Linked DNA regions of Homo sapiens: region 2 is linked to region 1. The links come from fine-mapping of genetic effects on gene expression. A gene starts in region 1. The other region holds a variant in brackets. All regions are shown on one strand. Distances are between the middles of the regions.

Region 1 (12,044 bases):
TGAAGAGCACAGCTCTGGGAAATCAAAGGCAAACAAGATTCAAGGTCGCTGGTCCCATGGGGCATAATATTGGAAAAACACCAGAAAGTAAACTGACAAGGTAACTGCAAAATTTGATAAATGTTAGGGAAAAAGTGGATGACATAGAAAATACGAGAGATCTATTTTAGATCGAATGGCCAAGGAAGGCCTCTGAACAGGCAAGCTGTGATCTAAAGGATATAAAGAGGTTAGCATGGAAAGAGTGAGAAGAGCCTTGAGAGGTATAAGGGCAGCTCAGGCAAATGCTCTAGGGAAGGAAAGAGATTGTCTTGAAGACAAAGACTAGTGAGCTGAGGGTGAGGAGGGTTGTTAGTAAACAATCTAGATTAAGTGCAAAAGGAGGTCATCAGATTTGTATTTTGGGGTCGCTCTTGCTGTTGAACATTTATCCTAGGCTGGCCTCTCTACTAAGTGCTAGGAAAATGAGGGGAATACACAATTAAATGGAGTAAAGCACAGAAGACTGACTATGGCCTTTGGGATCAGAGACCTGGGCTTCAAATCCCACCTCAGCTCCTTACTAACTGGAATCTTGGGCAAATTATTGAAATGCTGAGTCTCGATTCCCTCATCTGTAAGATGGAATTTTAATAATTAGTAATAAATAATAGTATGTAATTTTGTAGTGTTGTGAATATTAGAAATAATATATGTAAAACAATTAGCACAGTGCTTAGACACAAAATAAATAGTAGCCACTGTCAGGTAAGTAAGTGATCTGTTAATGCTTAGCATGAAGAGGTTACTCCTTAAATTACAGTAATTATTTCCATTCCTGCTTTCAAGCTCAAAGTCCTTTTCAGCTTATAGAAGGCCACATATAACATCATGCTCTATCAGTTTTCCCCCTTTTACATGTTTTCTGTTAACACATTTCCCTGGGAACTTTTGAGATCCGATTTGAAACTTCAGGAATTATTTCCCACATTTACTCCATTCTATTTTAAGTATGCCACTATTCTTATTCCAGTCAGAATTTATAACATCAACTGGAAAAGCTAATATGTTTGTGCCTGTTAAAATATGCTTTGTTCTCAAATAATTATGTTTTGTCTCCTTCAAGTAGGTTATAAGACAGATACACATTCTCTTTATTTCCCTTCCTCCTCCCCATCCAAGTGTTTAATATAATACTCCATTCATTTGTTTATTCAGTGAACAACTGGAGAGTACCACTACACTTAACAATAACTATTCATTTCTGGGTGCTTACAAGTCACATGTGATCACTGATGACTGGTCTAATTTTAAATTCATGTCCCAAAATCTCAAATGAGTGCACAACACTGCCTGAGCTCCTACTACATGCTCCTGACAAGTTTGCTCTCCCACCCTCCCAATGACTATCATACTTTCTCATCTCCCTGAACCTCCAGTATTCCTTCTCTCCCACCTCCAACTTATGGCCTGGGCTCATTCTTTATTGAGAAAACAGAAGCAGATGAGAACTACCTCATCATCTCACCACCAAATCTGCCAATCTGCAAAATACTTTCTGCCTTTCCTCTTTCATTGAAGGAAACAAACCTGTTCCTATCTCTTCCTTTTGTGCTTTGGATTCCATCCCCTTTGACTTTCTCAATCCCATGTCTGTGCCCATGATTAGCCCCTCTTTTTCCTACATCACATCCTCTGCTGGGTCATTTCCAGACATAACCAATATCCCCTATCTTGAGAAAACTCCCCCCCGAATCCAGATTCCTCTGTAGCTGTTACTCCCTTTCTGTGCTCTCCTTCCTGGCAAGACTTCTTGAATTATTTATTGTCTCTTACTCTACTTCCTCATGCCCCATTTACTCCAATCCACTCTAATCAGACTTCTCAACCCCACTTTCTCACTGATATAATTTTTGTTAGGTTACCAATGACTACCATGTTGACACCAGTGGTCACCTCTCATCTTATTTGAATCTCTCAGTAGTACTCAATATATTAGCCACTCCCCTTCTTAAAATACACACAGCAACCTGTTCTGATCTTTCTCCAGCCTCAACAGTGATTCCCCATTTCCTTTGCTGGCTCTTCCTCCTCTGCTCCACTTCTTAATGGTGGCATGCTTCAGGAGACTTAGGTCCTTTATTCTCTGCTTACACTTTCTCCCTAAGAGGATCTATGCATGTTCGGCCAGGCGCGGTGGCTCACGCCTGTAATCCCAGCACTTTGGGAGGCCGAGGCGGGTGGATCACGAGGTCAGGAGATAGAGACCATCCTGGCTAACACGGTGAAACCCCGTCTCTACCAAAAATACAAAAAATTAGCCGGGCGTGGTGGCGGGCGCCTGTAGTCCCAGCTACTCAGGAGGCTGAGGCAGGAGAATGGCGTGAACCTGGGAGGCAGAGCTTGCAGTGAGCTGAGATCGCGCCACTGCACTCCAGCCTGGGCGACAGAGCGAGACTCCGTCTCAAAAAAAAAAAAAAAAAAAAGAGGATCTATGCATGTTCATAGCTTTAAGTATCATCTGTATTCGGCCAGACACGCACGGGGGCTAATGCCTGTAATCCCAGCACTTTGAGAGGCCAAGGCAGGCAGATCACCTGAGGTTGGGAGTTCGAGACTAGCCTGAACATGGAGAAACCCCGTCTCTACTAAAAATACAAAATTAGCTGGGCGTGGTGGTACATGCCTGTAATCCCAGCTACTCGGGAGGCTGAGGCAGGAGAATCACTTGAACTGGGGAGGTGGAGGTTGCGGTGAGCCGAGATCGCGCCATTGCACTCCAGCCTGGGCAACAAGAGCGAAACTCCATCTCAAAAAAAAAAAAAAAAAAAAAAATCTGTATGCTGATTTGAGGGCCCCAGATTCGTATCTCCCATCTGACATCTTCACTGAGTTCTAACCATCTATTTGATGTTTCTACTTGGAAACCTAATGAGCATATCAAACTTAACATGGCCAAACCAGAATTCTTGATTCTCCCACACACCTGTTATTTTCCTATTCTTCTCCATCTCAGTAATTGACATAACTGTCCACCTAGTTGTTCAAACCAAAAACCTAACAGTCAACCTTGATTCCTCTCTTTTCCTCGTCTCTCCACATTCAACCCATCAGCAGGTCCTGTCAGCTTTCCCTGTATAATGCATCCTGTATGAGTGTGCTTTCCTCCATCTCTTGTTACCCTGGCCAAAGCCACTGTCATCCTTTGCTAGGACTATTACAATAGGCTCCTATCTGGTCTCTCCATTTCCACTCTTGCCACCCCCCACCAACTGTCACATTCTGTTCTTCACTCAGCACCAAAATTTATCATTGATTGATTGACTGACTGAGACAGGGTCTTGCTATGTTGTCCAAGTTGGTCTCGAACTCCTGGCTCAAGTGATCCTCCCGCCTCAGCCTCCTGAGGAGCTGGGATTACAGGTGCACACCAGGCCAGCTCAAAATAATCTGCTAATATGTCAGCCACAGAGATGGTAGCATCTACTCAAGCTGAATATACCTAAAGAGAGAGAGAGAAAGAGAAAGAGAGAGAGAGAGATCCCAGAAACCTCAACTCTAGGGACCCACCCAAGAGAAATGCATAAATATATTCACCAAAAGACATGAACAAGAATGTTCATAGCAACACTATTCACAATAGACCAAACTGGAAACTACCCAGATGCCTCTTAACAGCAAGAGAGATATCTATATTTTAATATAGTCACACAATGGAATACTACAAAGTATTGAGAATGTATGAACTAAAACTACACAAGGTGGGTGAATCTCATGATGAGCGAAAGGAAACAAGAGTATGTCATGTATGATTCCATTTACATGAAATTCAAAAAACAGTCAAAACTCAATCTAGGGTGTTAGAATTGACAATATTGTTTGCCCTTAGGGTGGGCATCAATTAGAGGGTGGCATGGGAGAGGGAGTTGGGTACTGGTTACATTGACGTGTTCATTTTGTAAAAATTCATTGAAAATACATGTATGATTTGTGTCTTTTCCCCTATGTATTCTATCCCCCCGTAAATAGTTTCTTTTTAAGTCAGCCAGTCAAGTCTCTTCCCTACTTACCACCCTCAGTGGTTTCCAGATAACATAGGCCTTCCTGAATCCCCCAGTTGAAGCAGCTCCTCCCACCCTGCCCCCACTTACTCTCTATCACATCACCTTCTTACCTACTGTATTAGCTTTCTAGGGCTGCTGTAGCAAAGTACCACAAAGTGGATGGCTTAGAACCAAAGAAATATATTGTCTCAGAGTTCTGGATGCCAGAAATCCAAAATTAAGGTGTCAGCAGGACCATGTTCCTTCTAAGGGAGCCAGAGAAGTATCTGTTCCAGACCTCTTTCCTGGCTTTTGGTAGCCTCAGGTCTTCCTTGGCTTACAGATCACCCTGTGTCTCTTTACATCATCTTCCCTCAGACACGGTACATGTCTGTCTCTGTGTCCAGATTGCCCCTATTTATAAGGACGCAGTCATATTGGTCTAGGGCTAACATCAATGACCTCATCTGCAACGATCCTATTTCCAAAAAAGGTCACATTCCCATGTGTTAGTCCCAGATGTTAGGACTTCAACATCTTTTGGGGGACATCATTCAACCCATAATATCTGCCATTATCTGAAATTATCTTATTAACTTGGTTACATGTTTACTGTCAAATTCTCTCCTCTGGAATATAAACTATTAGAGCAGTTCACCAGTATATCCTCTCAGACCTAGAATAGGGACTGGCACATAGTAGATGCTCAATAAACATCTGTTGAATCGATGACTGAGGATATGTTGTGTATTATTCACAATCCCTCAAGCACTACATACACTGATTACATATACTTCCCAAGTGTGAGGATACACAGAGCATTCACTATGTAACAGTCATTCCCCTCCATTCCAAATGTATCAGCTCATTTATCACACTACCCTTTATGATATTTACTACTGTATACTATTAATCTCATTTTGTAAATAAGAAAACAAAGCACAGAACAGTTGAATAAATTGCATAAGGTCACATGGTTAGTGGATGGTAAAGAACCAGGTGGTCTCAACTTCCAAATCCTCAGTTGTAACACTATACCCCCTACCTCTCTAGAAGCCCGTTACTTCTCTATGCGTTTCTGAGATGTTAGGGACAGCCAAGCAGGAAGAAACGCAGGACTATGAAGCAGCCACACCAGGACTAGGTGAGAATTCTTTGGGGATGATTCCAGTCACCTCCCCTAAAGGGGCTTTCATGCTGAAAGAGCCAAGAGGAAGAAGGATTGTAAACACTATCCCTAGTCACAAAACCGGGAGAAAAATCAATCTAGTTCCACATATCACATCCAATACCAACTATAAGAAACCACATACATTTAAAAGAAAAGAAAGACACTTCTGGAGGTGGGAATAACTTTCTAAGCAGTATAAGTCATCAAGAAAAATAAGCAGATTTGACTTGAAAATTTAAAACTTCCTGAACATCTGGAAAATAATTAAAGCATTCATGAAAAATTACTAAAAATACTGAGAAAAATACTAATAATCCAATACCTAAATAATCAAAGAATGCAAACATAATTCAGAAAAAAGTAACTACTGCTTGAGCCCGGGAGGCGGAGATTCCAGTGAGCTGATATTGCACCACTGCACTCCAGCCTGGGTGACAGAGTGAGACCGTGTCTCTTTTTTTTTTTTTTTTTAAAAAAAGGCCGGGCATGGTGGCTCACACCTGTAATCCCAGCACTTTGGGAGGCCAAGGCGGGCAGATCAGGAGGTCAGGAGATTGAGACCATCCTGGCTAACATGGTGAAACCGTCTCCACTAAAAATATAAAAAATTAGCCGGGTGTAGTGGTGGGCGCCTGTAGTCCCAGCTACTCGGGAGGCTGAGACAGGAGAATGGCGTGAACCCAGGAGGCAGAGGTTGCAGTGAGCCGAGATGGCACCACTGCACTCCAGCCTGGGCAACAGAGCAAGACTCCATCTCAAAAAAAAAAAAAAAAGTAACTACAATAAGCAAATACATAGCAAAAAGTTCAGCCTTACCAGCAATCAATGATGCTAATTAAAATAACAAGGAAGTGCCATTTTTTGCTTTTGTTCCCCAAATATATGATACCCAATACTGGCCAAGGCAATATGAAAACAGGCTTCCTCATACATTACTGGAAGCAGAATATAGTTATGTGCAAGCACTTTGGAAAATGATTCCCAGTGTTAAGGAAGAGACATTAAATAGCTGACACACTCTTAATTCTGTAGTCCCAGTTATGAGTCTCTATCATAAGTAGCCAGCTCTTCATTGCAGGATTATTGTAATCACCCACAGGGGAAATAGTAGAATTTCCAGCGGTAAAAAAATACACTAAGGCAGTACATTTAGTGTAGTGTAATGTAGCCATGATAACTACAATAACTGTGTAGCAACATAGAAAAATGTTAAATTTAAAAAGCAGAAGCCTGGGCAACAAAGTGAGACCCCATCTCTTTTTTTTTTTGAGATGGCGTCTCGCTCTGTCACCGAGGCTGGAGTGCAGTGTGAGACCACATCTCTACAAAAAATTTTAAAAATTAGCTGGGCATGGTAGTGATCACCTGTGGTCCCTGCTACACTGGAGGTTGAAGCAAGAGGATTGCTTGAGCCAGGAAGTCAAATCTGCAGTGAGCCATGTTTGTTTGTTCCGCTTCACTCCAGCCTGGGTAACAGAGTAAGACACTGTCTCAAAATAAAAATAAAATAGACAATACTACATACAATTTTGGGTTAAGCAGTGGTTTCTTTTACACCAAAAGCATAAACATTGGACTTTATTGAAATGAAAAACTTTTGGCCAGGCACATTGGCTCACACCTGTAATCTCAGCACTTTGGGAGGCCACAGTGGGGGATTGCAAGGGGAGATGGGAAATGTTCTAAAACTGGATTATGGTGATAGTTGGGCAACTGTGTAAATTTACTAAAAATTATTGAACTGTACATTTAAAAAGTGTGAGTCTTATGGTATGTAAATTATACCCCATAAAGTTGTTTTTAAAAATGAAGTAAGTCCCTCTGCTCAAGACCCAGTCATCTCATCTCATTCAAAGTGAAAGCCAGAGCTTTACAATCCCTATAAGAGCCTAGGTGGTAGCTCAACACTCTTACCTCCCTCACCCCATTTTCTGTATCTCTTTTCGTTGCCCATCTTCTAGCCACACCAGCCTCTGCTAATCCCCAAACAGGTACCCTCTGTGCTCTTGCTGTTCCCTTGGCCTAGAATGCTCTTCCTTAAGATGCAGGTAAGAATTCCTTCCTCACCTTCTTCAAGCTTTTATTTGAATATCACTTTCTTTTTTTGTTGGTTTTGTGTGTGTGTGTGGGGGGGGGGGGTTTGAGATGGAGTTTCCTTCTGTCGCCCAGGCTGGAGTGCAGTGGCATGATCTCGACTCACTGCAACCTCCGCCTCCGGGGGTCAAGCGATTTTCCTACCCCAGCCTCCTGAGTAGCTGGGATTACAGGCGCACGCCACCATGCCCAGCTAATTGTATTTTTTAGTAGAGACGGGATTTAACCATTTTGGCCAGGCTGGTCTCGAACTCCTGACCTTGTGATCCGCCCGCCTCGGCCTCCCAAAGTGCTGGAATTACAAGCGTGAGCCACCATGCCCGGCCTTTTGTTGTTGCTGTTGTTGTTCTGAGATGGAGCCTTGCCCTGTCGCCCAGGCTGGAGTGCAGTGGCCCGATCTCGGCTCACTGCAACCTCCACCTCCCAGGTTCAAGCGATTCTCCTGCCTCAGCCTCCCGAGTAGCTGGGATTAAGCTGGGATTATAGGCGTGCCCCACCACGCCCGGCTAGTTTTTGTATTTTTAGTAGAGACGGGGTTTCACTGTGTTGGCCAGGCTGGTCTCGAACTCCTGACCTCACGTGATCCGCCCTCCTCGGCCTCCCCAAGTGCTGAGATTACAGGCGTGAGCCACCGCGCCCGCCGCCCCCTGAATTTAGAGAATAGCGGAGCCTCCCCATTCTCTGCGGCCTTGGCTCCTACACTTCCCGTGGTAACCTTGTTCATCCGCTGAAGCCCGCTGCTTTTCCCAGCCCGGCCTCTGGGGGCCGCTGCCGGGCCTGTGAGCCTGTGGACCAGGAGCTCCTGCTGCCGTCGTAGCGTCACGTCCGGTCTCGGGCGGAAGTTTTCCGGCGGCTACCGGGAAGTCGCTGAAGACAGAGCGATGGTAGTTCTGGAGGCCTCGCTCCGGGGCCGACCCGAGGCCACAGTGCCTCCGCGGTAGACCGGACTTGGGTGACGGGCTCCGGGCTCCCGAGGTGAAGAGCATCGGGGGCTGAGGTGGGACCTTAGAAGGGAGTCTGGGAACCCTCACGGCTCTTATTGGAGTCCCTTCCCTGACCCTGGGCTCTAAACTGCCTTTGCTCAGGCTGTCCCGGAAGCAGGTCCTCCCCGTATCATACCATTCCTAGAGGGAACGGCGCAGGTTGGGACTTCCCTCCCTTTACCATCGTCACCAAGGCATGTGGTAACCCCGGGCCGGAGGTCAAGGGCGTCGCTTCTCCCTAATGTTGCCTCTTTTCCACGGCCTCAGGGATGGAAGGGTCTAAGACGTCCAACAACAGCACCATGCAGGTGAGCTTCGTGTGCCAGCGCTGCAGCCAGCCCCTGAAACTGGACACGAGTTTCAAGATCCTGGACCGTGTCACCATCCAGGAACTCACAGGTCAGCGAGACCCTTGGAAAGAGGGTGGTCAAGAATGTGGAAGGTGGGCAGCTTTGGTGATATAATTCTTATGGTGGCTGTGTAGTCTGCCACAAACTCATCGTGTGAACCTAGGAAAGTCACTTCATCTGGCTCCCTGTTTTCTCCTTGGAAACATAAAGCATTCTGACATTGTGGACTTCTGAGAGCTTTCCGACCGGGCGCGGTGGCTCACGCCTGTAATCCCAGCATTTTGGGAGACCGAGGCGGGCAGATCACCTGAGGTCAGGAGTTCGAGACCAGCCTGGCCAACATGGCGAAACCCCTCTCTACTAAAAATACAAAAATTAGCCGGGCGTGATGGCACGTGCCTGTAGTCCCAGCTACTCGGGAGGTTGAGGCAGGAGAATCGCTTGAACCGGTGAGGTGGAGTTTGCAGTGAGCTGAGATCGCACCACTGCACTCCAGCCTGGGCAACAGAGCGAGGCTCCGTCTCAAAAAAAGAGAGCTTTCAGTAGCAAAAGAAAGATCCTTATTTTCTGCTCCTGCTGTTTCAGAGAAAAGGAATATGTATATATAATAATAAATGGTATTTTTTGAGGACTTACTATATAGTAATACCAAGTGCATTACACGTATTACTTCATTTAGTCCCTGTAACAACCCGTACGGGGTATACCGTCATTACATCATTTTTCAGATGAAGAACCGAGGCACAGAGAGGTTAAGTGACTTACCTAAGGTCCAACAGCTGGTAAATGGAGTAGAGTCTTAAAGTCTGAAGAATTTGCTGGATGTGATGGCTCACGCCTGTAATCTCAGTGCTTTGGGAGGCTGAGGTGGGAGGATCGCTTGAGCCCAGGAGTTCAAGACCAACCTGAGCAACCTAGCAGAGATCTTGTCTCTAAAAAAAAAAAAAAATTGCTGGGTGTGGTGGGTGGTGGAGGCTGAGGCAGGAGGATCACTTGAGCCCAGGAGGTCAAAGCTGCAGGAAGCTATGATCATGCCACTGCACTGCAGCTTGGGCAACAGTGCAAGACCCTGTCTCAAAAAATAAATTAATTAAAAAGGCCAGGAGTGGTGGTTCACACCTGTGATCCCAGCACTATGGGAGGCTGAGGCAGGTGGATCACTTGAGCAGGAGTTTGAGACCAGCCTGGGCAACACAGTAAGACCCTGTCTCTATAATTAAAAAAAATAAAAAACCCCAAAATCCCGCAAAGTCAGAAGAATTCAGATTAAGTCAGACAGTAAAAGAGAAGACTGAATAGGCAGCTTAAATAAGCTTATGGGCCTGGAGTCAGCCTGCTTGGGTTTAAATCCTGGCTGTCATTTACTAGCTGAACAACTTTTTGCAAGTTACTTCATTTCTCCAAGCCTTGGTTTCTGATTTTTTCTGTAAAACGTTAAACTGCCTCATAAAGAATTTATAAAGTTCAAATATGACAAACCACAGAAACACTTAGGAATTTGCTGGGCAAATAGTATTCAATAAGTATTAGCTGCTATTATTACCTGGTTTCTCTTTCTTGAGGGGAAATTAGCTCTTTTTTTTGTTTGTTTGTTTGAGACGGAGTCTCACTCTGTTGCCAGGCTGGAGTGCAGTGGCGCGATCTCGGCTCACTGCAACCTCTGCCTCCCGGGTTCAAGTGATTGTCCTGCGTCAGCCTCCTGAGTAGCTGGGACTGCAGGCACACACCGCCACGCCCAGCTAATTTTTGTATTTTTAGTAGAGACGGTTTCACTATGTTGGCCAGGATGGTCTCGATCTCTTGACCTTGTGATCTGCCCGCCTCAGCCTCCCAAAGTGCTGGGACTACAGGCGTGAGCCACCGCGCCTCTTAAACTCTTTTAATAACAATTTTTGACTTTTTATTATGGAAAATTTGAGACATATATAGTCAAGAGAATAGCATAGCCTGCCTTGTATTCATCATCCAGCTTCAATAATCAGCCATATTCTCACATTCTTATGTTGTCTACACCTCCATTCACCTCCCATCCTCTGCTCAATTATTATGTTTTTCACACCTTTTTAGAAAGGTAAATTGTCATGACTTGAAATGTATGAATCTTAGCTGTACATTTTTGACAAATGGATACACTGATGTAATCTGGATCGTTGCAATTTAGCAATGTTTCATCTTCCTAGAAAGTTTCCTTATGTTCCCTCCTTGCTATTCTGGGGGAAACAGGATGTTTGCTTTTGTGATGGAAAATTTCAGAGTATATCATGAACTCCTGTGTACCCATCACCTAGTTGCAACAATTATCAACACATATTTAATCAAGTTTTGTCTACAGCCCCATCCATTCCTTCCCACTCTGAATTGTTTTGAAGCAAATCCCAAACATAAATACTGTAAATATTTCTGTATTTTTGACAGATAAGGATTCTTAAAGATAAATGATACCGGCCGGGCGCGGTGACTCAGCCTGTAATCCCAGCACTTTGGGTAGCTGAGACGGGTGGATCACGAGGTCAGGAGATCAAGACCTGGCCAACATGGTGAAACCCTGTCTCTACTAAAATACAAAAAAATTAGCTGGGCATGGTGGTGCACGCCTGTAGTCCCAGCTACTTGGGAGACTGAAGCAGGGGAATCACTCGAACCCGGGAGGCAGAGATTGCAGTGAGCCGAGATCGTGCCACTGCACCCCAGCCTGGCGACAGAGCAAGACTCCATCTTAAAGTAATAATAATAATAATAATAATGATACCATTATGCCTTAAAAAATTGAACATTTCTTTAATCTGATTTAATGGGGGTGAGGAAGACCACAGATTCTTTTGGTGTAAATGGTACTTTAAGAAAAATTGGAGGTGAGGGTGGTGATGAGAATATTTCACATTCTTTTCCCATACTTTCAGATGCCCTCCTGCTTTAATAAGACTGTTTCTGACCCAATATTTTCCTTGCCCTTAGCTCCATTACTTACCACAGCCCAGGCGAAACCAGGAGAGACCCAGGAGGAAGAGACTAACTCAGGAGAGGTAATAGAAGTGCCCTCTCCCCTATCCTCCTCATGTAGTAAACATTCCAAATGAGAGATATGATATGAAAACAGGAATGCAGGCTTGGTTTCTGCAGGCTACTTGGCGCTTCTAGAGCTCCCGGACTTTTGGGATCTCTGGGTAATGAGACATTCTACATGATCAGGCTGCTATGCACCATTGGAGGTACAGATCTGCACCTGAGGTCACAGGGTTACTGAATTAGTCATTTTAAAATGTTGGAAAGGGCTCTTTATTTGAAGCAGAATTATAAATTATTGTAGGTTGGAGATGGGATGACCTGTGTGTCCAGGTCGTTCTAGAGCATTGATTTGCATCTGTTGTTCTAGCTAGTTGTTAATATCCACTCCTTTCCATTCTCAAAAGCATCCTGGTTAGGA
Region 2 (13,974 bases), 39 kb after region 1:
GCTTTCATCATATTCTCAAATGGGCTAAGAGCCACTGTTTTAGGCCAGGCACGGTGGCTCACACCTGTAATCCCAGCACTTTGGGAGGCCGAGGAGGGCGGATCACGAGGTCAGGAGATCGAGACCAGCCTGGCTAACACGGTGAAACCCTGTCTCTACTAAAAATACAAAAAAAATTAGCCGGGTGTGGTGGCGAGCGCCTGTAGTCCCAGCTACTCGGGAGGCTGGGACAGGAGAATGGCGTGAACCCGGGAGGCGGAGCTTGCAGTGAGCCGAGATCGTGCCACTGCACTCCAGCCTGGGCGACAGAGTGAGACTCCATCTCAAAAAAAAAAAAAAGCGCCACTGTTTTAGGGTCCCAGAGATGAAGAGGAGTTAAATCCAAGGGGACCGCTGAGGGCAGAGAGTAATAAACCCTGGAGCAGAGAGTCCATTTCCCCTGGAAGTGTCCACCAAGGGGTCTGACCTGGGGGCTTAGGGTGTCTTCAGCAGCCTCCATGGGGCCAGTGTCTCTCTTCAACAGGGTCTCCACTCGCTGGATAATCTCCCGAATCCGTCTGAGAAATCCATCTCGCTCCGAAGGCAGAATGAACTCGTTATATACCTTGCGAGGGTCAACAGGATGGGGAGGGAGAGCTTGTTATCTCACTCATCCCTCTCCCCCTGCTTCTGATCTTAAAACATCAGGCTGGGCGCGGTGGCTCACGCCTGTAATCCTAGCACTTTGGGAGGCCGAGGCGGGCGGATCACCTGAAGTCAGGAGTTTAAGACCAGCCTGGCCAACATGGTGATACCCTATCTCTACTAAAATACAAAAATTAGCTGGGCATGATGGCGGGCACCTGTAATCCCAGCTACTTGGGAGGCTAAGACGGGAGAATCACTTGAACCTGGGAAACGGTGGAGCCAAGATCACACCACCGCACTCCAGCCTGGACGACTGAGCGAGACTCCGTCTCAAAAAAATAAAAATAAAAAATCCACCCTTCACACTACTGCTCCTGCCAACCACCAACCTAAAACAAGTAAATACCTATTGTGTTCCAGGCACTGTGTGGTGTAAGGAGAAATACAGCCTAGAAGGAAAGGTGCTAACATTCATAGGATGCGTATATATACCAGCTGCTTTGCGTATATTATCACATTTAACACCACCAGTAACTTTCTGGGGCCCACATTAATATTGCTATGGTAGAATTAAGATAACCAATGCTCAAAGAGGTTAAGTTCCGTCTGCCTAAGGTCACAGGATTTAAACCCACATCTACCTAAAGCCAGAGCCTGAGTTATCTTCACTGCTGCCTCCCATGTTTTGGACACAATTTCTGCCCCATAGTGTTTATAAAGTATAACACACAGGCCCACATACACCCATCCCACACGGTTAAGTCAGAATAAGGCAATAAATGGCAAATGTCACATTCAAATCCATGAATACTTATTGAGCACCTACTATGTGCTGGCATTGTGCTGGGTACTGTGGGAATACAAGGAAGCATGAAACAAGGTCCTAGGCTTAACGAAGCCCAAAACTTAGTGGAGGAGACACATAAATACGTAATTAAACTTACTGCAAGGCAGCCCGTAATACGTAAGGCACTTACAAGTGAGATATAGATAGAAATGTTGTTCCAGGGTTGGGGGGATGGGGGTGTGGAGAGGCAGAGTTGTTTAATGGGTACAGAGTTTCAGATTTGCAAGGTAAGAAAACCCCTGGAGATCTGTTTCACAGCAATGTGAATATACTTAATATTGCTGAACTGTACACTTAAAAATGGTTACGGTGGTAAATTTTATATTTATGGTTTTTTAATCACAATTTTTTAAAATGCTATTCCAAAGACAGAATACCACCCTGGGGATAGGGGGAAGCTGGAGCAGTTTCACAGAGTAAGTCTTTGGAGCTGAACATTGACAGATGAGAAAAGCAATCTCTATTGAGGACCTACCATGTGTGGACACTTCTACATTACACTGTGTCGTATCAGAACATCTTTGCAAAACAAATACTATCATCTGCATTTTACTTACATGCAACTGAAGTTTACAGAGTTAAGAAACTTGCCTAAGTTCATTGGATTAGTAAATAACAGAGCTGAAGTTTGAACTTAGGTATTACATGAAAGCGACCCCTTCCTCTATTCCAGGCTGTTCATCAGGAAGAGAAGAGCAGTCTAGGCAGAGAGAACAGTGTAGTAGCTTTGAAGCATGAAAGGCATGGTACATTATTATTTTTTTTTTTTTTTGAGACTGAGCCTTGCTCTATCACCCAGGCTGGAGTGCAGTGGCACAATCTTGGCTCACTGCAACCTCACCTTCTGGGTTCAAGAGATTCTCCTGCATCAGCCTCTTGAGTAGCTGGGACTGCCTGGCACCATGCCCAGCTAATTTTTATATTTTTAGTAGAGACAGGGCTTCATGTTGGCCAGGCTGGTCTCGAACTCCTGACCTCAAGTGATCTACCTGCCTCAGCCTCCCAAAAGTGCTGGGATTACAAGTGTGAGCCACTGCGCCCGGCCTATTCAATCTTTCTTTCTTTCTTCTTTTTTTTTTTTTGAGACAGAGTTTCGCTCTTGTTGCCCAGGCTGGAGTGCAATGGTATGACCGTGGCTCACCGCAACCTCCACCTCCTGGGTTCAAGTGATTCTCCTGCCTCAGCCTCCCAAGTAGCTGGGATTACAGGCATGCGCCACCACGCCCAGCTAATTTTGTATTTTTTAGTAGAGACGGGGTTTCTCCATGTTGGTCAGGCTGGTCTTGAACTCCCGACCTCAGGTCATCTGCCTGCCTCGGCCTCCCAAAGTGCTGGGATTACAGGCGTGAGCCACCATGCCCGGCACAGCCTATTCTTAAAATAGTGAGGACTCAAGTGTAGCTGAATGTGCTGTGAATTTTAAAGGCTTTGGAATTTGGACCTTACTCTACAACCACAAGTAGCCACTAAATAATTTCGGGTGAATATCAAGAGATCAGATCCAAGTCTCAGGAGAATTCTGCTGCAGAGGAGTGGAGGGTGGACTGGGTAAGGAGAGAAAAGAGGGCAAAGGACTCTGGGTGCATGGGGTGGGGTCACTTTGGCTGTGCAGGATCAGAGGGGACTTGAAAGCCCAATACAGAAGGCTCTACGAGTGAGAGACCCTTAAGGAGGTGGAGGCAGAGGCAGGAAGGCACCCAGCCTTTTCAGAGGCCCATTTTGAAACCAGTGTGGCTGGATGGAAGACTCTGAAAGAGTCAAGTGGTTTGACGGAAGGTGATGAGCCTTGTGTGCCAGGTGATATTGTGTCTTTGTCCTGGACACAAGGTGAATGACATGATGGAGGAGATGCTTTAGAGAGGGCTCCTGATGCCTGGTGTTTCTCCCATTCCTTTCCCTCCTTCACCCCATGGGCTGGCATCCACCACCCCCACTCCACTGAAACTGGTCTCCCACAAAGATCTCCTAACAAAAGCCAGTGTGGTCTTGCCTGAGGATTCATCCTATGCCACCTCCTTGAAACTCTCTCCTCACTCAGTTTTGACTAACATCCTCCTACGTCTCTGGCTTTGTCTCTGTGTCCTTCGATGACCTACCCTCCCGCTTCCCACTCCAGAACTGGTGGTATGCGCTGAGACACACTCTGCAACCCTCTGTGTCTCTGGCTTTGCCGGCTCATCTCCCTTCACTCTCAACTCTGTACTGACTACTCCTCCATCCACATCTCTCCAGCCCTGCCTGACCCATATCCATGGCTATGGAGGGTCTTGTCTTGGCTGTCCCTTCTTCACTCAAGCTCATCATGACCTCCTTAAAAAAAACCTTCTTTCATTTCTAATTTCCTCTCTCCTTTGGTGGCCTACTCTCCTACTCTCCTTTGGTGGCCTACAAGTTGTCCTTGACATCCCTTCTCCCTAACTCCCAATCATATCAACTCAGCAAATATTTATTGAGCATCTACTATGTACTATGTTCTCTACTACGTCAATAGGTTACTGGATTACAGAGTAACTTATTTTCCCGAAACAACCCTCAGATTCACCCTTTCTCCTCTTCCCTCCCATAAGCCACTCTCTCCTTTGTCCACAGATGGCTTCCTGGGTCTACCTCCCAGGTATTTTCCCTTCCCCCTTCCACATCCCATGGCAGATGATTTTCATAAAGCCTACTGTCACGTTACACTGTGCCTTTTTGTTTTTTTGTTTTTGTTTTTTTTTGAGACAAAGTTCACTCTGTCTTCCAGGCTGGAGTGCAGTGGCGTGATCAAAGCTCACTGCAGCCTTGACCTCCCAGGCTCAAGTGATCCTCCCACCTCAGCCTCCCAAGTAGTTGGGATGACAGGCATGTGCCGCCACACACGGCTAATTTTTTAAATTTTTTGTAGAGATAGGGTCTCATTATATTACCAGGGTGGTCTTGAACCCCTGGGCTCAAGCAATCCTCCTACTTCATCCACCCAAAGTGCTGGGATTACAGGTGTGAGCCACTGGACCTAGCCTGCTCTGCCTCTCTATTTATTTATTTATTTATTTATTTATTTATTTATTTATTTATTTTTAGACAGAATCTCACTCTTGTCGCC[C/T]AGGCTGGAGTGCAATGGTGTGATCTCGGCTCACTGCAACCTCCGCCTCCCGGGTTCAAGCAATTCTCCTGCCTCAGCCTCCCAAGTAGCTGGGACTACAGGCATGCGCCACCACACCCAGCTAATTTTTGTATTTTTTAGTAGAGACGGGGTTTCACCATGTTGGCCAAGCTGGTCTTGAACTCCTGACCTCGGGTGATCTGCCTGCCTCGGCCTCGGCCTCCCAAAGTGCTGGGATTACAGGTGTGAGCCACCACGCCTGGCCTCTGCCTAACTCTTAACATTGTCTATTCTACAATCTGGGCCCACTCTACCTACCCGGCTTCACTCCCCACAACTCTCCTATAGGAATCTTTACTTCCAGTGATAGTGGTTTCCTCATGAAGCCCTCCCAGCCCCATATTCCAAGACACTCTCTACTTGGAATGCCTTTGCTTATGCTGTCCCTGCACAGGGACACCCTTCATGGCCTTTCCACCCTTCACAGCCTTTCTTGCCCATTTGCCAAGATCCTGGGTAAGCTCATTGCCCCTGCTGCCCAGTCCATCCTTCACCTACAGCCACAGTATTGCACATCTACCAGGCACTTATACGTAGCACTTGTGTGTACCCGGTCAATGTGAGTCTCAAATTGCTCCAGCTGAGAAGCCAAACCTCACTGGATAAACAGAAATCTCCCCCAAAACAAGGGCTGAGACATCTTCAGCGTTACTGTGCTAAGTGTCAACCAGAGATTTAAAAATGCTTGCTGTCGGATCAGTGGGTTTCAGCCCCAGCGGACATCAGGAAGGAGACTCTTGTTCCAGATCCAAACACTCTGTCCTCATCTCTCTCCCCCTCACCATGGCAGCTGCAATCTCTTCCGGGCTGTCCCCATCCAGATCAAATCGGAAGGTCACCATCTTGCTGTTATGGGTCTGTAGCTGGCACTCAACCACTCTGTCATTCTGGTCTGAGACCTTCAGATTCAAAGTCAGCAGAGGGGAGAAGGTCAAGCCCTCTTCATCATGCTGTGTCTCCACCCTACCCCAGCCAAGTGACAGCAGCCACAATGGACTTGGAGATAAGTAGACCCCACCTCTAAAGTCTGGTATTAGAAACCAGACTGGCCGCCTCTTGAGTACTAGTCATACACTGCTTCTCCCGTTTTCTGGGTGACCTCCCCCGCCTCCCCCTGACACTTCCCTCCTGGCCCTGTAGGTTACTCTCTATCTCCTGTACTCCATCCTTACACTAGTGACCCGCAGCCGGGATCGGGGTCTGCGCCGGAGATTCCTCCCTGGGGGTCTCCTCATTTGTCCCATCCCTTCTCCCACATCGCTAAGGCCTGAAGCTGCATCTGAGGCATAGCTGTTAAAGAGAAAGGAGAGAGAATGACTGTCAGAGCAGACACTGGGACCCCAGTGCCCCAGGTGTCTCACCCTGGCACCCCAACTTGTACCAGAACATACCTGTCCCCGGGGGAAAAGTCACTTCCAGGGCCAGAACGTGGAATGGATAGGGCAAAAGCCTGAAACAGGATAAGGGTTCATGAGGTCAGGGGAAGATAACTGTTGAGATCTAGGGAGATGGTGTCAAGGATGCTGGGAGGATATTAGGGAGATGGAATTAGGGAAGAGGAGGGCAAGAATGGTGGATTTCCAGGGACATGGGACTGGATCATGAGATTGGGTTTCACAAGGAGGGAGATAGGTCATAGGCTTGGAATGGCTGGGAGCCCCCCATGCGACCCCCTCTCACCGAGGGCAGGCAGAGATGGGACTCAGCCAGGCTGGATGGCACCCCCCCAGGGGGCTGAAGGGCAGGGTCTGAGGCATCCAGGAAGCCGGAGGAGCTGAGGTAGCCATCAGTCTCGCAATCCGCTGGTTGGGGAGGGAGAGGATCAAAAAAAGGGGAAATAAAAGGGAATAGTGGCAGAGGATGGGGCCTGCCTAAGCAAGGAGGGGCCTGGAGCTGTGGGAGAGTTCCTTCCTGGAGGGAGCTTCATGGCTAGAGGTGGAAGGCAGGGTAAGTGACTGCTGTGGGGGTGAACTTCTGGGTAGGGGGCAGAGGCCAAGGTGTTCTGGGACCTACGTCTCAAGATCAGGGGTGACTTACAAGTGGTAGATGAGTAGCTGGCGTGGCGGAAAAGGAAGGGCTGGTGCTGGTCTGCCTCTGGCTCCTCAGGCTCAGGGGGGAAGACACTGGGGGGACCGGGGGCCATGGGCACAGTTGCTGGTGGAGGTCCTGGCTCTGGTGGGAGTGCCTCCAATTCCCTTGCTTTACGCAGCTTCTCACGCTTTCGCTGGATGGCAGCAACCCGTTCACGTACTGCACGGGCCACTGGCTGGTAATCGGCTTCACAGACCAAGCCCAGAGCCACCTGGAATTGGGGTGGGGGATGAGGAACACAGCTTGGGACCCCCTATCAAAGATCCATCAGGACGCCTTCTTGGGAACTCCAGGATATGGGAGGAAGAAAACCAACACTTACTGATTACCCACTATGTCTGTTAACTGGCAGCTCCTTACATTATCATCACTAGATCCTCCAAACAACCTTGTGGGATAAATCTTACCATTCGATTTTTAGAGATTAATGAAGTAGCTGGTTCATAGTTATACAGTAAGTCAGTGGTTTCCAATGGGAAGAAGAGATGTTTGGCACTATCTAGAGACATTTTTAGTTGCCACAACTGGAGGGTAGGTGCTACTGAATCTAGTGAGCGGAAGCCAGGGGTTCTTCTCAACATCCTACAATGCACAGGACAGTCCCTAAAACAAACATGTCAACAGTGCCAAGGCCAAGAATCCCTTGTCAGCAATGGATCAAGATTTGATCTCAGGTCAGGTTGGGCCGTGCTATGGAGACCTGCTCTAAATTTCTAACACATTCTCAGATTCTTGACCTACCGTAGGTGGTCTCCACCCTTGCAACTGTCATGTCTCTATTAAGAATCCCATACTCGGCCAGGCACGGTGGCTCACACCTGTAATCCCAGCAATTTGGGAGGCCAAGACTAGTGGGTCACTTGAGGTCAGGAGTTCGAGACCAGCCTGGCCAACATGGTGAAACCCCGTTCCTACTAAAAATACAAAAATTAGCTGGGCGTTGTGGCTTTTGCCTGTAATCCCAGCTACACAGGAGGCGGAGGCAGGAGAATTGCTTGAACCCAGGAGGCGGAGGTTGCAATGAGCTGAGATAGCGCCACTGCACTCCAGCCTGGGTGACAGAGTGAGACTCCATTACTCCCAAAAAAAGAATCCCATACTCCCTTCAGGACTTCCTAAGCCAGCCCCCAAGCTTCTGCCCTTGCATCTTATGCCTCTCCCCTTCTACCAGCTTCCATTCATCACCTCCTCATTCCTTTTAGCCGCAAGCTTTGCTGAATGAGTAAAGGAGGTGGGGAAGGGTAACCTGATTTAAAATCTGAACCACCTCAGTTTCAATCCAGCTCTTCCACTTACTTACTTGGGGCCCTGGACAAGGTATTCAACCTCTCTGAATTTCCATTTCCTCATCAACAAGTTGAGATAAAACTGCCCCCTATGCAGGATGGGTAGCAAAGATCAAATGCATGTGAAAGTGCTTTAAGCCATGTACAGATGTAGGCTATTAATGAGCTCTTACTATGTGCCAAGCACTGCCAGGGATAGAAGAATCGATAAAACACAGTCTCTGCCCTCAGGGAGTTTATAGTCTAGTGGAGAAGAAAGATAGGAACTTATTCAGGTTTAAGACAGGACCGATAGTGGGGAGTGCTGTAACCGAGAACATGCTGAAGTGGAAAGAAGCATTTAAGTTTGACTCCAAAGGGGACGGCTTCCCGAAATCGATGGTTCTGATCATATTGGAAGAAAAAGAAAAAGAAAAATGGGGAGGGAGGAAAGAAGGAAAAGATGAATTGGCAAGAAGGGCATCCCAGGAAGAACAGATCAGCTGGAGGTAAAGCAGGGACGCTGGAGGACCCAGGGCTCCCTCTGTAAAGGAAAACTGGGTGTGCGTGCGGGTAAGTTAGGGCTGGAGAGGTAGGGAGACGCTGCAGGAGATTTTGAGAGGGGTGAGGTGCCCCGCCCCCATCGCTGCCACCCCTCCTGCGCCCCATCCCTGTTGCACTGTCCCCTCGAGTCAATGTCCTTTACACGTCCAGTGGCAGCACAGTCTGTCCTCCGCTCACCATCTCCTGTGCCACCTCCTCGGCCGCGTCCCGGCCCAGCTGGAACAGGAACTCGATGGCCTGGTTGTCCCGTGGGCGCCCCCCGCGCCGCGCGTCCTCCATGCGCAGCCAGAGCTTGAGGCCCGGCTTCTCGCCGTCGTCCTCCTCCGCTAGTTCCACGTGCACACCGCGCTCCTCGCGGAAGAAGGCGTGGGCCAGGAGGTCCTGGATGGTGAACCTGAGGGTGACGCGTGGGTGAGCCGAGCCCGCCGCGGCCCGCGGCCCTATTCTACCCACGCTCTGCCCTTTCACCCCCACCTCTCGTTCTTATCCGTGCGGATGCAGCCTTCAATGATCTCCTTCACCTCGGGTATCTTCACCTTGTGGAAGCTGTTCGGCTTTCTGCCCTGGGGAAGGGGTTGCATGACACCTCCCGTCCTCTGATCCCCAGCTCTCGGCTTGACACCACCCCCCACCCCTTACTCCACTCCCTCCTTAGGCAGCTGCGCGTGCAGTTGCAAAAGCCTGACTGCTACTGGAAGATGTGATTTCAAATCCTAATCCCCGCCCCCCCCCCAAGTATTTACAGTGTGATCTTGAACAAGTCTCCCGCTGTTTGTTCATCTGTAAATCGCAGGGTGGAACATTTGCCCCGCTCACCTCACAGGGCAGCTGGAAGGATTGGATGAGAGATGGGATGCGAAATCATTTGTGAACTCTTGGGAGCACCACACATATTATTATTCTAAATAGCGTGTACTGGTGGGGGCGCGTGTGCACTCAATATCCTTCTGTGTTCACCAAGGCGACTCTGTGTCTAGCCTGTTTTCGTGCAGGCAAAGGGCATTGACTGCGGGCTGGCCGGCGCAGGAAAAGGGGAAGTGGCCCTGGAATTGCCTTTCCCGCCAGCCCCATCCCTCTCACCGAAGTGACCTTGCGGTAGATTTGCGCGGCATTCTGGCACTCGGAGTACGGGTACTCAGAGGTGGCCATCTCCAGCATGCACATGCCGAACGCGTACACGTCCACGGCCTCATCGTACTTTTCCTCGTACATCTCGGGGGCCATGAATTCCGGGGTCCCTGTAGGGTCCACAGCAGGGATCAGATTGCTGGGCACTCTGGCCTCGTCCTTCCCACTGGGCTAGGCAGCCCCAGGCAACCCTGCGAGTGCAAGTGACCCCGGCCCACAGTGGGGTTGAGGTGGGTGCCATAGGTCTCCTCAGCTTCCCTGTCGTCTGGTAGTTTTGTGGACCTTGAAGGCCCTTGCTGAGGGGAGGGAGTCCCCAGGTTCTCTTCTGAGGTGGGGGAGGAAGGAATGGCATGGACCCTCCTGGAGAGACGCACCGATGACACTCTTGGCAAAGGAGGCGCGCTTGAGCGTGGCCAGGCCCAGGTCCCCGATTTTGACAGAGCCAGTAGGTCCCGTGATAAAGACATTGTCGCACTTGAGATCCCGGTGCAGGATGGGAGGAACCCGGGAGTGTAGGAAATGAAGTCCCCGCAGGATTTGGCGGCTCCAGCGCTGAAGGACCCGCGGCTTCATCTCCCGGAACCGCCTCAGGTACCTGGGGGAGGGCGCATAGCCAGAGTCCTGGTGGGGGGACACGTCCTCCGGGAAGGAGCCCCCCACTGGGAAGTTCCCCCCTGCCGCACCCTGCTGCCGCCTCCGCATCTTCTGCCAGCATTCTCCTAGCCTATGTCTGCCCGGCCCCAGGGAGAAACTGAGTCAGGGGGCATGGTGGATAGACATGACGTTACCAAACGGGTTGGGAAGTAAATTGATAGATAGGGCCTCGGCCAAGGTGCTGTGGGAGCGCAGGAAGGGATGACTAACTGCCCCAAGCATGAGGGAGAGCTTCGGAGAGGAAATACTTTTGTGTTGCATCTTGAATGATGAGTAGGAGCTCAAAGGTGAAAGGGGGAAGGGATGGAGACTTCCCAGGCAGACAGGACACCGTGCTCAAAGGCACAGAAAAAGCCAGTGACAAGGCAGGGTGGGAGGAGGTGCCAGGAATTTGGTGTGTCTGGAGCTTAGGCTGAAAGTGAGGCTGTATCCTAAGGACTTTGTGAACAGGTGAGCCTGTGTGGGCTTTATTCCAAGGCCATGAGAAACTTTGAAGGGGTTTTAAGGAGGGGAGTGACAGTTCAGATTTTCAACTGGGAAAGATTCTCCAGGCTGCAGGAAGATAGGATCGCTTAGAGGGTGGCAGAGTTTGGGAAGGCCCTTTAGGAGGCTGCTGCAGGGCTCCAGATCAGCGAGATGGCATTGAGGTGGTGGCATGGATGAAGCAGTGAAAGCCAGGTGGGGAGAGGTTAAGGAAAGACTTGGGGACAGACTGATGAGGGGGCAGAGTGGAGAAAGAGGAGTCTGGGGAGACACCCAAGTATTTTACTGGAGTGCTGGGTGGACATTGCCACTCACCGAGGCAGGGACAAAGGTTGGGTGAGAGGGAGATGGTGAACCTGGTTTTACACCTGGATATTAGAGAGTTTGAGGAGCCTGGGAGTTCAGGAAGCAGTGGGCACACATCCCAGCCTCCCTCTCCCCACCCACTCATGCGCAGAGCTCACGTCTTGAGCGTGCCCGAGGTCATGAGTTCGGTGACCAGCACGATGCAAACCTGGCCCCTCAGCACCGACTTCCACGAATCATAGAAGCGGACGATGTTGGGGTGCTGCAGCCCCTTGAGCATCTCCACCTCCTCTGAGAAGCGCTGCCGCTCAGCTCTAGACAGTTTCCGAGTCTGTGGGATGGGGGACGGGTGTCATGTCAGGCCCAGGACACCCACAGAAAGGAAGAGGGACACCTGGAGTGGGGTTGGGGGAAGAGGTGAGGGTTGGAGCCCACAGATGGGGTGGGGTTAATGGGATTACTTGCCCAGTGGGCTGCAGACCCTGAACTCTCCAACAGTCCCGCACGTAAGCTGATCCAAGGACACACCCAACCTGGGCCTGGGGCAGCCCCCTAGACCCCCTGCTGGACACAAGCACCTTTATGCAGCCCGGTCCCAGAGCCCTGAGCTCAATAGTGCCTTTGTGGCTGCCCAGGCCGGCCATGGGGCGGGAGGGGGCACCCGGGGGCTGGCAGTGAGCAGGCAGCAGGCGGGCAGCAGGATACTGCGGGCAGGGAATTGGGGCCGGCAAGGGGGTTGGCCCCAGAAACAGAACTGCTAGATCCAGACGGAAGGCGGGAGGGATATGGAGGGAGGTACTGAGAAGGAAAGAAAAGATCCAGGACTAGGCGCCAGGAGGCTGCCCACCCCCATAGTCGTCCCGCCCCGGCTCCTCTCCCTCCCCTCACCCCCCAATTTGGCTGCCTCTCCTGGCCTGGCCCAGAGCCTGGGGCGCGGCACTGGCAGGCGCAAGGGGCGAGCCCTGTGCCAGGGCTGGAGAGGGACCCTTCCCCTAGGCTCTGTCCCCTGATCTGAATCGGAAGCTTCAGGCCCCAAGTTGACTGGGTTCTCCTAACCCATATGTAGCATGGGAGCAATGGGAGGAAGGTCCCCCTAAAGCCCATGGGCTTAGTGCCTTTAGGTCTGGGAAGGGAGAGCACAGGTAGGCAGTGGGATGAGGAGCAGAACTGGACTCACTCGAGAGCTGGAGCTCCCTATGTCCCCCTCCTCGCAGCTGTGGAGAAGTCCAGAAGTCTGACTGCTCCAGAAGGGGTTAGGGGGCCCTATTCTGCCACAACTGCCCTAAATCTTCTGGAGTTGGAGATGACCCTTGCCCAGCTCCTGGCTTCCCGCATCCCAGCCTCCTGGTCTGCAAATAGGTGGGGGACGGGAGGAGTGAGGGGATCAAGAGGACCAGGGTCATAACTGAGGATCTCAGGACTTAGGGGAGAGGAAGGGATTGCGGGTACCCACCAGCAGGAAACTGACCTGAACTGGCTCCCCTGCCTAACTTCCCATCCTATTTTCCACCTCTCAGGGTTGAGTATGGAGACTTTAAAGTGAGAATGTTCATACCCATGGGGGAGTCACCAGACACCACCTGCCTCAATCTCTCCTTCTGCAGCCCAGAGTCAGCCAGATCATTCAGGGCAAAGACAGCAGAGGTGTCTATAGACATTTGACTGGAAAAATACATGCTTCCCTTGATGCTGTCTCCCCCACCCTCTGTCTGTCATCCTAAGACCTCCAGAGTCCCATCCCAAGGTGCCACCGAGGGGGCTCCCAGCCGCACCTGCAGCTCACACCAGGCCACCTCCACTGTGGTGTCGGTGTCTAGCCCTCGATACACCGTCTTGAAGGAGCCACGTCCAATCTCGATGTCAAACTTGAGGTATCGGCCATCGGGGGACGTTGCCACAGCCTGGGTCTCCATGTCCTCCTTTTCTTCCTGCTCCCGCCGCCGCTCTAGGGCCACAGCTTCAGGGACCCTTAGCGGCTCCCTGGACCCCGGGCCCACTGCAGAGTCCGGGAGCTCGGGACGCGCGGAGTCTTCCGCAGCCTTCACAGGGGCTCCCTCGGTCCACGTGCCCTCGGGGGGTTCTTTGGAGCTAGGCGGTGGGCTCCTCGCGGGGCCAGGACCAGCGGAGTCCGGAGGATCGGGGGGGTCCGGAGCGGGTGAGGCTGGCAGGGACCAAGAGCTCAGCAGCCCCAAGTCGACTGAGCTACGGCGGCTGAGACGAGAAGAGCGCGGCCGGGGCTCAGCCTTCCCGGAGAAGCGGCGCGCTCGGCGAGGAGGGGGCCCGAGGCGGGGCTGCCCCGCGGTGCCAAGAGGAGGCGGGGGCCGCAGGGCCAGGTCGGCCTCAGTCTGGGACATGAGGACGGTGGTCTCCGTGGCCGGGGATGCCAACATGAGGAAGAGCAGGGCGCCGAAGGGTAGAAAATCAGACGGCCGGAGAGGAGGCGGCCTGACAGACGGACTCGCTGGGTGCGCTGCGCTCCGGCTGAGCGGCTGCGGCCCCAGCCCCCAGCTCGGCCTGGCCCCGCCCCCGTCGCCGCCCCGCGGCCCGCCCTTGCCCCCCAGGGCCGCCCCTCCGAGCTGCTCCCGCGGTGCGGATCCCGCGAGCAGCCCCTCACCTTAGTCACCGCCCCGCCCAGCCGCGTCCCCTTCTTTCCCGAGCCCCCGGCCGCAGTCTCACTCTGAGGCCAGAACTGAGTGGGAGACCGCGGAGCATCCTCCCGCACTAAGAGTGAGCAAACCTGTTTGTGCGCGGAGGAGGGCAGGAGAGAACGACACCCGGACCCTAGTGGGGGATTACTTAGGGGGAGGCTACCACCCTCCTGCACACCCCAGATAAGGCAGCACCACCCCCTCCTAACTGTCCGGAGT

What was found.
Region 2: its variant is fine-mapped to the expression of BECN1 in whole blood (INTERVAL, PIP 0.94).

What each region holds. Positions count from the first base shown.
Region 1 is chr17:42,820,373-42,832,416 of GRCh38, reverse strand. It overlaps BECN1 (beclin 1), which reads left to right and starts at 8,135. Exons shown (of 12, transcript NM_001313998.2): 1 at 8,135-8,262; 2 at 8,538-8,669; 3 at 11,576-11,643. The coding sequence starts at 8,540. It overlaps MIR6781 (microRNA 6781), which reads left to right and starts at 8,474; the gene lies at 8,474-8,537. RefSeq lists enhancers at 7,206-7,772, 7,777-7,906, 7,773-8,341, 8,342-8,908.
Region 2 is chr17:42,780,222-42,794,195 of GRCh38, reverse strand. It overlaps WNK4 (WNK lysine deficient protein kinase 4), which reads right to left and starts at 13,586. Exons shown (of 19, transcript NM_032387.5): 1 at 12,880-13,586; 2 at 11,266-11,438; 3 at 10,039-10,259; 4 at 9,617-9,774; 5 at 9,011-9,099; 6 at 8,714-8,930; 7 at 6,654-6,918; 8 at 6,297-6,418; 9 at 6,008-6,066; 10 at 5,789-5,906; 11 at 5,399-5,515; 12 at 467-604. The coding sequence starts at 13,497. RefSeq lists enhancers at 9,530-10,161, 10,067-11,266, 12,556-13,513. The variant C/T (reference allele first, on the strand shown) is at 4,557.